Regions from separate parts of the Homo sapiens genome. Here all the other regions are linked to region 4. The links come from fine-mapping of genetic effects on gene expression. A gene starts in region 4. Each other region holds a variant in brackets. All regions are shown on one strand. Distances are between the middles of the regions. Region 1 overlaps PTPN20 (protein tyrosine phosphatase non-receptor type 20). Region 2 has its middle 57 kb from the start of MSMB. Region 3 has its middle 56 kb from the start of FAM245B. Region 4 holds the start of GPRIN2 (G protein regulated inducer of neurite outgrowth 2).

The links.
Region 1: its variant is fine-mapped to the expression of GPRIN2 in unexposed skin (GTEx, PIP 0.97).
Region 2: its variant is fine-mapped to the expression of GPRIN2 in lung (TOPMed, PIP 0.96).
Region 3: its variant is fine-mapped to the expression of GPRIN2 in thyroid (GTEx, PIP 0.95).

Annotation. Positions count from the first base shown.
Region 1 is chr10:46,951,260-46,953,964 of GRCh38, forward strand. All of the region lies in intron 5 of PTPN20 (protein tyrosine phosphatase non-receptor type 20), which reads left to right. Among named protein-coding and RNA genes, the nearest start is that of PTPN20, 41 kb to the left of the region's middle. The variant A/G (reference allele first, on the strand shown) is at 1,458.
Region 2 is chr10:46,102,222-46,104,838 of GRCh38, forward strand. No RefSeq gene overlaps it. Among named protein-coding and RNA genes, the nearest start is that of MSMB, 57 kb to the left of the region's middle. The variant C/T (reference allele first, on the strand shown) is at 1,667.
Region 3 is chr10:46,795,190-46,797,894 of GRCh38, forward strand. It overlaps the pseudogene BMS1P1. Among named protein-coding and RNA genes, the nearest start is that of FAM245B, 56 kb to the left of the region's middle. The variant C/T (reference allele first, on the strand shown) is at 1,247.
Region 4 is chr10:46,555,229-46,557,933 of GRCh38, forward strand. GPRIN2 (G protein regulated inducer of neurite outgrowth 2) reads right to left here and starts at 1,430. Exons shown (of 3, transcript NM_001385282.1): 1 at 1,270-1,430. RefSeq lists enhancers at 761-1,466, 2,172-2,705.

The DNA of each region.
Region 1 (2,705 bases), 400 kb after region 4:
TGGGATTACAGGCGTGAGCCACTGTGCCCAGCTAGGATCAAGTATCTTAATATATGTTTATTAACTTCTTCTTGGATTTGCATATTTATAAACTTTGTTCATTGTTTTTCTTATTAATTTGTAGGAACTCTTCACATGTTGGAAATCTTAACATGTTGTCTGTCTGACAAATGTGCTATAAATTGTAACCCTCAATTCTATACCTTAAGAAGGGAGACTTTCATGAACATTCTTAATTTCTAAAATGTTTAAAAAGGTCTTCTTTACAGGAAAAACATGCAAATATTCTCCTAAATTTTCTTCAGAATTTTTATTCACTTATTTTGCTTAGATCACGAATCTATCTGCAGTTTATTGCTAAATATTATAGGGGTATAGAAAACTATATTTTCTTTCATATGACTGGACAGTTATACCAGCACTATTCACTAAGTAAACCACATTTCCCAAATGAATTTATATATACTTTTATCACATATTAAGTTTCCAAAAATGTTTGATCCTTTTGTATTCTCTAAATTTTTTTTCACTAACTGACTTGTTTGTTCCTGTGGACATATTATATTATTCTGTTTTGATTCTACTTATTCTAAATATATCTGGAAAGGAAAATCCTCCCTCTAATTTTTTAAAAAATACATTTTTGTAGCTATTTGGGCAAGTTTTTGCTGCATCGGTGATTTTAAATTATTTTGTTCATTCCTGTGTAAACTTGTTTGAAATTTAGATAGAATGACATGCCAGTTATATTCATTCAGGTAGGATTGGCACTGTTGTGATTTTAAGTTCTTCCTTCCACATATAGAATGAGGGGAGTCAGGAGATCATCCATAGTGCATCTGAGCACAGAATAGCTGCTGCCCCATGTTCACCTTCCAGATCTGACATGAGAACCTCGCTTGTGCCCTGTTTTAGCTGGAAACATTCAGAGAACAGAATTCTGGGAAAAGTGGTCCAGCCTAGCCATGTCAACATATTATAAAGCTATCACAGTTCACCCTGTATCAGCCTGGCACCTATATACACCCTTTTAAATGTTACTTAATATCCAAATAAGGACAACCTTATGCTTGCATCTACAGTGATAAAACTAATCTGTGTACAACTGAAAACATTCTCTCCCCTTCTCCAAAAGTGTCTCTTTTTTGTCTTGAGTGATATTCTTTCTTTTCCAACTGATTCACATTCCCTTTAATATTTTTAAAAGAAAACAAAAATATGATATATATATATGTATAAAATATGCATATCAAAAAAGAAAGAAAAATTCACAATATTTTATCCCTGTTTATGCAGCTGGTCACATGGTTGTATCTGATTTTGATCACTGCCGTCTTACACCTGTCTGGTATTCTCTTTCAGCTCAGCAAACATCCCATTTGGTTGTGGTTCCTTGTCTGATAGGGTGACCCACACATTCATTCCTCAAGATCTAAGTCATTAGTAGTTCTGCCTAA[A/G]TTGGGTGGTTCTAGTTTTCTGTTTACTTAATCACCTTGACACACCCTAGAGGATCACCTGCATTGCAGACGTATTCCTCGTTACTCCATTGGAAAGCAGCAGCCCAGTTTCCCCTTAATACTTGGAATCCAGCACACTAGGCAGTGTAGTAATCCCCCTTTCCCTGATGATTCAGTAGCATATGAGGAACCCAAAATGTCCTGGTGGCGTTCTCAAATTCCACTTTAACGGATTTGTTGTTGTTTCTCCTGACGGAAGCATTCCTCACTCTGTTTAGGTCTGCATTGATTTCTTTCATCAGTGTTTGTTTGTTTTGCAGTCTTAACATATAGATTGTATATATGTTTTGTTAGATTTATATCTAATATTTCACATGTTTTGGTGCTATTGTAAATGAGACTTATGAAAAATATTTTAACTTCTATTGTTCATTGATAGTAGATAGAAATATGATTGATTTTTGTATATTACCAATGTGTCCTTCAACCTTCCTAAATGCTCATTAATTCTAGGGCCTTTTAAATATATTTTTTGGAATTTTTTTAAGTAGATACTCATGTTGGTGAATAAACACAGTTTTATTTTTCTACTTTTCCAATGTATATGCCTTTCATTTCTTTTCTTTCTTTCTTTCTTTCTTTCTTTCTTTCTTTCTTTCTTTCTTTCTTTCTTTCTTTCTTTTTTTTTGACTTACTAACTTATTGCATTCGCTAGGACTTTTGGTTCAATGTTGAATAAGAGGAAAGGGAGTGGACATCCTTTCCAGATTCTCCATTTTAGGGAGAAAGCATTCTGTTTTTCATCATAAAGTATAATGTTCGCTGTAGTATTTTTGTGAATGCCATTTATCAGATTAAGGGAGCCTTCCTATTATCCTAGTTTCCCGGAGTTATTATGAATGGACTCTTACTTTTGTTAAATGCTTTTTCTGCGTCTATTCAGATCATCATATAGTTTTTCTTTTTTTTGCCTGTTGATATACCGTGAGTTACTTTGGTTGATTTCCAAATATCTCACCTGCTTTGCATTCCTGGGATAAGCCCAACTTTGTGATGGTGTAATATTGTTTTTATGTTTTACGATTTGATTTGCTAGTATTTTCCTGAAGACTTTTTTTGTGTTTATGTTCATGACAGATATTCATCTGTAATTTTCTTTTTTTGTGATATCTTTTTCCGGTTTTAGTATCAGAGCAATGCTTCCCTTATAAAATTATTTGGGAAGTGTTTTCTCCTCTTCAATATTCT
Region 2 (2,617 bases), 450 kb before region 4:
TATTTTGTGATGAACATGTATTTCTGTCCAGTAACCTAAATTTAGTATGTTTAGATACATTAATGCATGCAAAACCAATTTTAAAATGCTATAAATAAACCTAACTTGGCCACCATATTTTAAAACATGCTAGAGTTTAGTCATAATTTAGAACTTTTTGTTTATCTATGATCATGAGAGAGATGGGTCCATGCTTTCCAATTTCTGTGCTGTCCTTATTTGTTTTTGGTATTAGGTCATAAGAGACTCATAAAATGCACCTGGAGGTTTGCTCTTTCTCCTAGGAAAGACTTTGAACATGATAAATATAATCTGCTCTTTGAATATCTGGTATGATATCATCCTTGTGTTTTCTTTTGGGAAGACTTTAAAATGATATAATTTAATAGTTCCTGGATGTTACTAATTCTGTCTCCCCCAAAATGGGTATGTTGAAGCCCTAACTGGTGATGTGACTGTATTAGGACATGGGGCGTTAAGGAGGTAATTAAGGTTAAATGAGGTCATAAGAGTAAGGCCTTCATCAAATAGGACTGATGTCCTTACAAGAAGAGAAAGAGACGCCAGAGTTTTCTCTTCAAGCATGCACAGAGCAAAGGCCATGTGACAACTCCATGAGAAGGTCTCTGTTTGCAAGCCAAGAAGAGGAGTCTCATCAGAGACCAATCCTGGTGGCACCTTGATCATAGACTTTCAGCCTCCAGGATTGGTAGCAAATAAATTTTTATTGTTTAAGTCCCCCAGCCTGTGGTATTTTCTTATGACACCCAGAGCAGACTAACACTTATTTATTGATGATGATGATGATGATTATTATTATTATTATTATTTTTGAGATGGAGACTCACTTTGTCGCCCAGGCTGGAGTGCAGTGGCATGGTCTTGGCTTACTGCAACCTCTGCTTCCCAGGCTCAAGCGATTCTCCTGCCTCAGCCTCCAGAGTAGCTGAGATTACAGGGGCGTGCCACCAGGCCTGGTTAATTTTTGTATTTTTAGTAGAGACAGGGTTTCACCATGTTGCCCAGGCTGGTCTTGAACTCCTGATCTCAAGTGATCAGCCTGCCTTGGATCCCAAAGTGCTGGGATTACAGCCATGAGCCACCATGCCCGGCCCTAACACTTATTTAGTGTTTCTATTTCTGTCAATTCATATGACATATTTTTCTAGGAATTTGAACATTTATTAGCATGCCTTGTTATAAAGTTGTTCAGTTTATAGTTTATGTTTTTTTGTTTTATTTTATTAGGTGCATGCAAGTTTAGAATTGTTATGGCTTCCTGGAAAATGCAGCTGATTAGGAACTGATCCTCTTAACCCCTGGTCACACTTTCTCTGTGCTGAAGACTCCCACTTCCTTTTGGTTTCCCCAGCATCCCGGCCATATCTCCGTTATCTTTTCCCATCCTTTTATGTTAAACTTTTTTATGTCCTTATGTATTAGATATGTCTCTTTTTGAAAGTATATAGCCAGTTTTTATTGCTGCTTTTTTTTTTTTTTTTTTTTTTTGAGACATGGTCTCACTCTGTTGCCCAGGCTGGAGGGCAGTGGTGCGATCTTGGCTTACTGCAACCTCTGCTTCCTGGGTTCAAGACATTCTCGTGCCTCAGCCTCCCGAGTACCTGAGACTACAGGTGCACACCAACACTACCTGAGACTACAGGTG[C/T]GCACCACCACATCCGGTTAGTTTTTGTATTTTTTTGGTAGAGATGGGGATTCACCATGTTGGCCAGGCTGGTCTCGAACTCCTGACCTTGAATGATCCGCCTACCTTGGCTTCCCAAAGTCCTGGGATTACAGGCGTGATCCCACCGTGCCCAGCCAATTTTTTTTTTTTAAGAGTCAGGGTCTCACTCTGTTGCCCAAGCTAGAGTGCAGTGGTGCACTGATAGCTCACTATAACCTGGAACTTCTAGGCTCCTGCCTCCCACAGTCCAGTAACTAGGACTATAGGTGTGCACCACCACACCCAGCTAATTTTGTTTTTTGTGTTTTTTTTTTTTGAGAGAAAGGTTCTTGCTATGTTGCACAGACTGGCCTCAAGCAATCCTCCCGCATCTGCCTCCCAGAGCTATGGAATTACAGGCATGAGCCACGGTGCTGGATTGCATTTTTTTTTCTTTTTCTTTTTTTTTAGCAGACAAATTCTGACTTTAAATGGCAAGTTAAGTACATTGTGGGGAGCACGAAACTGCACCAATCAGATCTGTGACTGTGGGGAGTATGACTGGGAGAAGGGAGTGTTTTGGGAATCCATTCTCTACCACCACAATGGGCCACCACATTCACGGAAAGACCACACCCCTCACAGGCTTCTTCTAGCCAGAGGCCAGCAGGGATATGAAGACAGGCCCATGCCTAGGAAATCTCAGACTCCTCAGATGGCTCAAGGTCTCCCCATCTGCTTGGATAAACTTTCCTGGAACTGGTCTCCCCTCTGAAATTATTCTTTCATTTTCAGAAAACTCCCCATATTGGTGATGGTCATTATTTTCTGTATCTAGCCACTCACCTTAATCAGCGTGTTCCCAGCTTCTTTGCTCACCATTGTTTGTTGAACTCCACTCTTATGAGTTGTTTCCTTCTTTCTGAAATACATTCTTATCCTTTCATCAAG
Region 3 (2,705 bases), 240 kb after region 4:
GGGTGGAGTGAGCTGAGAGTGCACCACTGCACTCCAGCCTGGGTGACAGAGTGAGACTCCATCTCAAACAAACAAACAAACAAAAAGACTGAAGAGACATTACTAAACGTCTCTCTAGGAATTGCCTCCTGAATTCCCTTTGTGTATGTGTTCCCAGTCTCTGGAAGGTTTCCCTCAAGAGAGTGGTTATTCTGGGCCTCTTGGTGTATCTCATTTGTCTCCGTACCTGCTGCACCAGGCAATGTCTGGGTGTTTTGGAGTCGGGACTTAATAGAGTACATCAGAAGTTTCTCCCAGTTACAGGACCAGGCACTGCCCCTTCCTTTCCATACTGCTGTGGTCCATCGGCCACAGAACCGTTTCTGTGCTCAGAGGCCTCACCTCCCTCTCCTCACCATACTTAGATGGATGCCCCGGCTTGGTTGCAGAGCAGTCTGCCTCTGTGTGGTTCTAATAAGTCCTGAAAGAATCCAGCAAGGCTCTGGAAGCCTCAGGACAGTGGCTTTGCTGGAAGTCTCCCTTCTTAGGATTGCTTCTTGTTTAGAGCTTTTATTTTGTTGCAGTATTGACGAGAATTTAATTGAAATTTAATTTTTAATTTTCCTTTAATGTTTAGGTTGCCAAACTGTTCTACCTTTCTGGAATGGTGCATGGAGAATATCAAAACCAAGAAATCCACAATCTGGGCCATTTTATTACAGTTATGAAGTTTAGGCCTCTCATGGCAAACTTTTCACCCTTATATCCTGGCAGACAGTTAAAAGGTGATTGTAAACTTTTTCTTCCTGGGCCATATATTTCAAAGCTAAAAAGGCTAGAAAAAGAACAGTGATAGGATTTATTTTGTGCCTATTTGAATAGTGGGGGTAGAAGTGTAGTTGATGGAAAATGTCTACTTATATCATTGCTCAAAGATGCTGTGCCTTTGGGAGTAAATTAATTATGAGATGTTTAGGAAAATGGGAGGACTTGGAAGCATTTAAGACTACAGGATGTGGCCCCATCCTACGTTCAGCCTCAGTTTTCAGTGATGCTGCCTTCATGCCCGGGTGCTGGAGTCCTTCGTGCATGCCTTCAGTTTCCTTCCTTTGTGCTCTTCTTTGTGCTGTGATTTTCTCAGCCTGGAATACCCTTTTTCCACCTGCCAGAATCCAAGCCACAGTACAAATCCCAGAGCACAGGCTCACCCTCTTCGAGAAATGGATTTTCTGAATGTGTTCTTCACTCTTCCCTGACCCCAGGTGGA[C/T]GCCATCTCCCATCTGGTGTCTTATGGAATGAATGTCACTTTCAGCCTAGAGACACAGTTGTGTGCCTGCCCCTTTTCCTCTTCTGGATGGTGAACGGTGCTTCCTTATTTCTGCATTTTCTAGTTCCTAAGTGATGTGCTTAATGGACAAGAGTGTGATGAGTCATTGACACATGAAAGGAGGTATAGGAACTTTGGCATTCATTTCTGCTGTATGATTGAGTTTATTTTTCTAGGATGGAAGATTTGACAAACCCGGAGGATATCCAAACAAACATCAAATGTGACCTGCAGGTGTCACTTTATGGTTATTTAAGAGGAGCACACTTGAAAAATAAAAGCCAAATTCACATGCCAGGTATTCTCTTGCTGTAGAACATACGAGAATTGCACATAGGATTCTTGGGATGGCTTCATTTCTCAGGAAAAGTGAAAAATGACCAAACAAGGGAAGATGGCCTTGCTGGAGGTTTTAAAAGTAAGCCAGCTATGTGTAGGCCTGCAAAGGTGTTACCGAATCCCTCTTCTCTGACCTCTTGTAGCTAGAGGGCCACTGTTCCAGTGTGGCACAATGCCCTTCTTTAGGGTCATGGGTTAAGCCCTTGGACTGTGGATCGTTTTTAACCCCCCAGTCAACAGTAGATACTTACTGACTTCTTGTCAGTTGAAGCTGGCTTTTTGGGTCCTGTCTTCCAGGGGTAGAACATTTTGCCATGAGTGACATCAGTTTCCTCCCAGACCCTTGTGTTCTTCCTGAATAACAAAAGAAGTGCTGTTTAAATAAGAAGGAGCAGCTGGTTTATGCGCCTGTTTCTGGAGTTGAGGGTGTGCTGTATGACAAAGACGCTGTCTGTGTTGACCTTGGTGGCAGCCACGGTTTTCAGGCATCAGTGAGGCAGGAGTCTTTGCTCTGAACTCTCATTATTCTTTCCTAATCTATTTCTTAATCAAAAAAAGTAATGTACTCAGCTTTTATTTATTGAAGATTTTTCTCTTGTACTTATAATAAAGGCCCAAATGCATATTGTCAATATGTAGAATAAAAAGAATACCATTTTTTCATTGTACCAAGCAGAAGAGTCCTGTCCTCCATGCCTCCTTGATCCGTGGCCCCAGCGCGGGCACTGCTGCCAGTGTGGCACCTGCACGGCTTATTTCCGTTTCTACAAAATCAGTGTGCTTTCCAGCTCTCGTTTGTCTTTTTCTTTTTCTCAATCACAGTGGTCTCCTCATTATTTTAAAGTGGATTTCCAATATTTATTTCTTAGTTCTGTAGTTGAATTTTATTGGGTTAAAAGCAGGGTTACTTAAAAATGTTAGAAAAGCTAGCACTGTTGTAGCACTGGAACTGAGGTTTTTCTAGCTAGGTGTTTAGGTTATCAGGTTATATACTCACTGAGCTTTGGACAAGTTTAATGGAGATGGGGATCCATTTCAAGCTTTGTTATAAGGATTTTCT
Region 4 (2,705 bases):
GAGCCACAGCGCCTGGCCCAAGTCCCCTCTAGTTAAGTGGCAAGCATTTGGATGATGACTTATGTGTCCGGCAAAACCAAAACAGGAAAAGCAAACCTATATGATCAGGCAGGAAAACTGGTTCTATGTTAAAATATGGACCTTACCTCTCAAGGACCAGGCAGGAATGCACACAGCACAAACCCCCATTGCACAGTGGGGATACAGCACCCTCCAGGAGGTGGTTTAATCCACCCCAGAGTGAACGGGGCCTGATAGGAACACTCAGGGCCAACTCTGGGCAAAGCAGCAGGCAGCATTCCTAAAGGGAGGGTTTGGAGGAGACAAAACCTGCCCTTCACAATGAACGTGCCTTAAGGGCTACATGCCCCGGGTCACAAGCTGTGCCAGGAAAGGGTTCTGGGGTAACTGTGGGGTCAGTGGCCCCATGGATGAGGCTCTGCTCACCAGGAAGAGGCCTAGGCGCCCAACAGCCCCTGAGCTTCCTCCCCTGGGGAGGATTTGCCCACAATCCCTGGGGGGCACCTAGGTGGAGAGGGTGCCCCGGCCTAGAAGCAGCCTAGGCGGCCGGTGTGTCCCTATCTGCACGCTCACAAGCACTCATGCCCCAGCCTGGGACACACAGGCCCGTATGCAGTAACAGCGTCTACCCAGCTGCACTCTGCACGCCAAGCACAGGCCGCCCCTGCTGCGGGGCCAAAGGCCTGAAAGCACCGCACCACGCAGCCTCGCCCAGAATAGCTCCCCTCCCGCCCCTCCTGCACAAAGCCCACCCGGACTTAGGGAGAAGGGGGCTCAATACGGGCCCGAAACGAGGCTACAGACCTTCTCAGGAGCAAAGGCAGCGACTGCAGGCAAATGGGGCTGTGGGCCGGGGTAATGATGCGGGACAGGAGAAGCCAAAGGGCAGCAAGGCTGGGGGCGGGGTAGGCGGCGCAGTAGGCTGAGGGAGGGGAAAAGGAAGAAGGGGAGAGGGAGGAGCGATGGCAGCAGGGGTGGAGGCCGAAGGAGACAGGGTCCCGGACAGACTTGTGAAAATGGGAGGATGGGCAGAGGAGACGTAGAAGAGGGGACAGGACAGGACAATGAGAGGCGGAGCGCGGGGAGTGCGATGCGGCCACCGGGGGCTCTGGGCGCTGGGCAGGGGCCAGGATGCCGGGGGTCTGAGCGCAGGCAGCGGGAAGGAGTGGGTTCTGAGGCTCAGCAAGGGGGAGGTGCCGCCCACCACGCCCCCCGCCCCAACGGGAGCGCGCGGAGCCAGCCTCTCACCCTCTCGCCCGCCGGGGCCGCGCAGGCGGGGGAAGCGCTGCTCCTGCGGCCGCCACAGGTGCCAGGTGCCGCGGCCCAAGATGGAGCCAGAGCCGACCTGGCCTGGGCGCGAGACGCCGCCCGCCGCCGTCGGCCCGGCCCGCGGAGCAAGCGCCGGGTACAGGGAGGGGCCAGCGGGGCAGCTGGCACCGGGGCGGCGGGAGGGGCGGCGGGCGGAGACCTCGCTCACCTGGGCCCGTGCCACTCTGGAGCCTGCCACCGCCCCGCCGCGGCCCGGGATCTGCGTCCGCGCGCCCCCACCCCTCCTTCCCGACCCCTCCTCAGGCCGGGTCCCCACTGTCCTCGGTCTTTTCGGCCCCGCCCGCACCACGACCGCCTGTTCTCCAGGCTGCCCAGCGAACCCCCAAGACTCCCACTTCCCCGACGCAACCCCACCGTCCCGGGTGTATAGGCGCAGCTCCCCACGATTCTCCGGCCCCAGACCCAGCCCCTCAAGTCCACCTCCTCGTAGCCCCACCCCCTCGCTCCAGTGCCCCTCGCTCCAGTTCCCCCTCCGCACCACGCCCCGCATTGAGGTCTCCGCGCCGGCGGCTACCCCTTTCCTCTCGCCTTCTCCATCCTAGCTCCGCCTCTCACAATTCTCTGGCTCCAGATCCCGCCCACGAGACCCCGTTTCCTATAGGGCCCTTTCGTCTGGGATACCAGGCCTGGTCTCCACTAGCCTCGGACTTTCCAGCCCCAGGTCCCAAATCCTGGACCCACCGTCCCATCCTCTGAGCTCCACTCTCATGGACCCCAAACCTCACTCCAGTCCTTTGAACTCCATGATCCTGGCCTGGCCTGGCCCCCGGAGCCCTCCATTGCCCCTCAAGAGCCCAGCCTGGTAGACTCCTTCCCTAGGGTTGCATCTCCAGCCCCGCCCCTGAAGACTGGTAATCTACCACCCCTTTCCCTGCCCACGTGCCCCTACCCAGCCCGACTTGAGGCCTTCAGTCTCCCAGCCGCGGACCCCAACAGCGGGCGAGGGCAGTGACCGTGCGGGGATGAGCCACCTCCACTGGAGCCCGCCTTCTTCTCCGCAATTCCCCGCAGCACCACAGCGCCTTCCCGGTCCCGTGACGCCGGGGGCCAGCCCAGGCCCTGGGATCGCCAGGTTCCACACTATGAGGCTGAGGACCTGGGCCTACGGTTCCCTCAATATCCCCCAGTTTCCACAACCGCTGGCCAGCTTCAGGGCGCAGGACAGGCAGCCCCGGCCTCCCGCCACTCGCAATAGATTCCTGCTGTCCACCCAGGGCCACGTGGTATGAGGCACCTGTACTATCTCTGGGCCCCAGTATCACATAATTGGGTCCCAATGTTGGCACTTCTCCGTTGTCCCCTGTGCCGGGACCCCCAACTTGTTGGCCCAGCCCTGTGCTGAGAGGCCTGCGTTC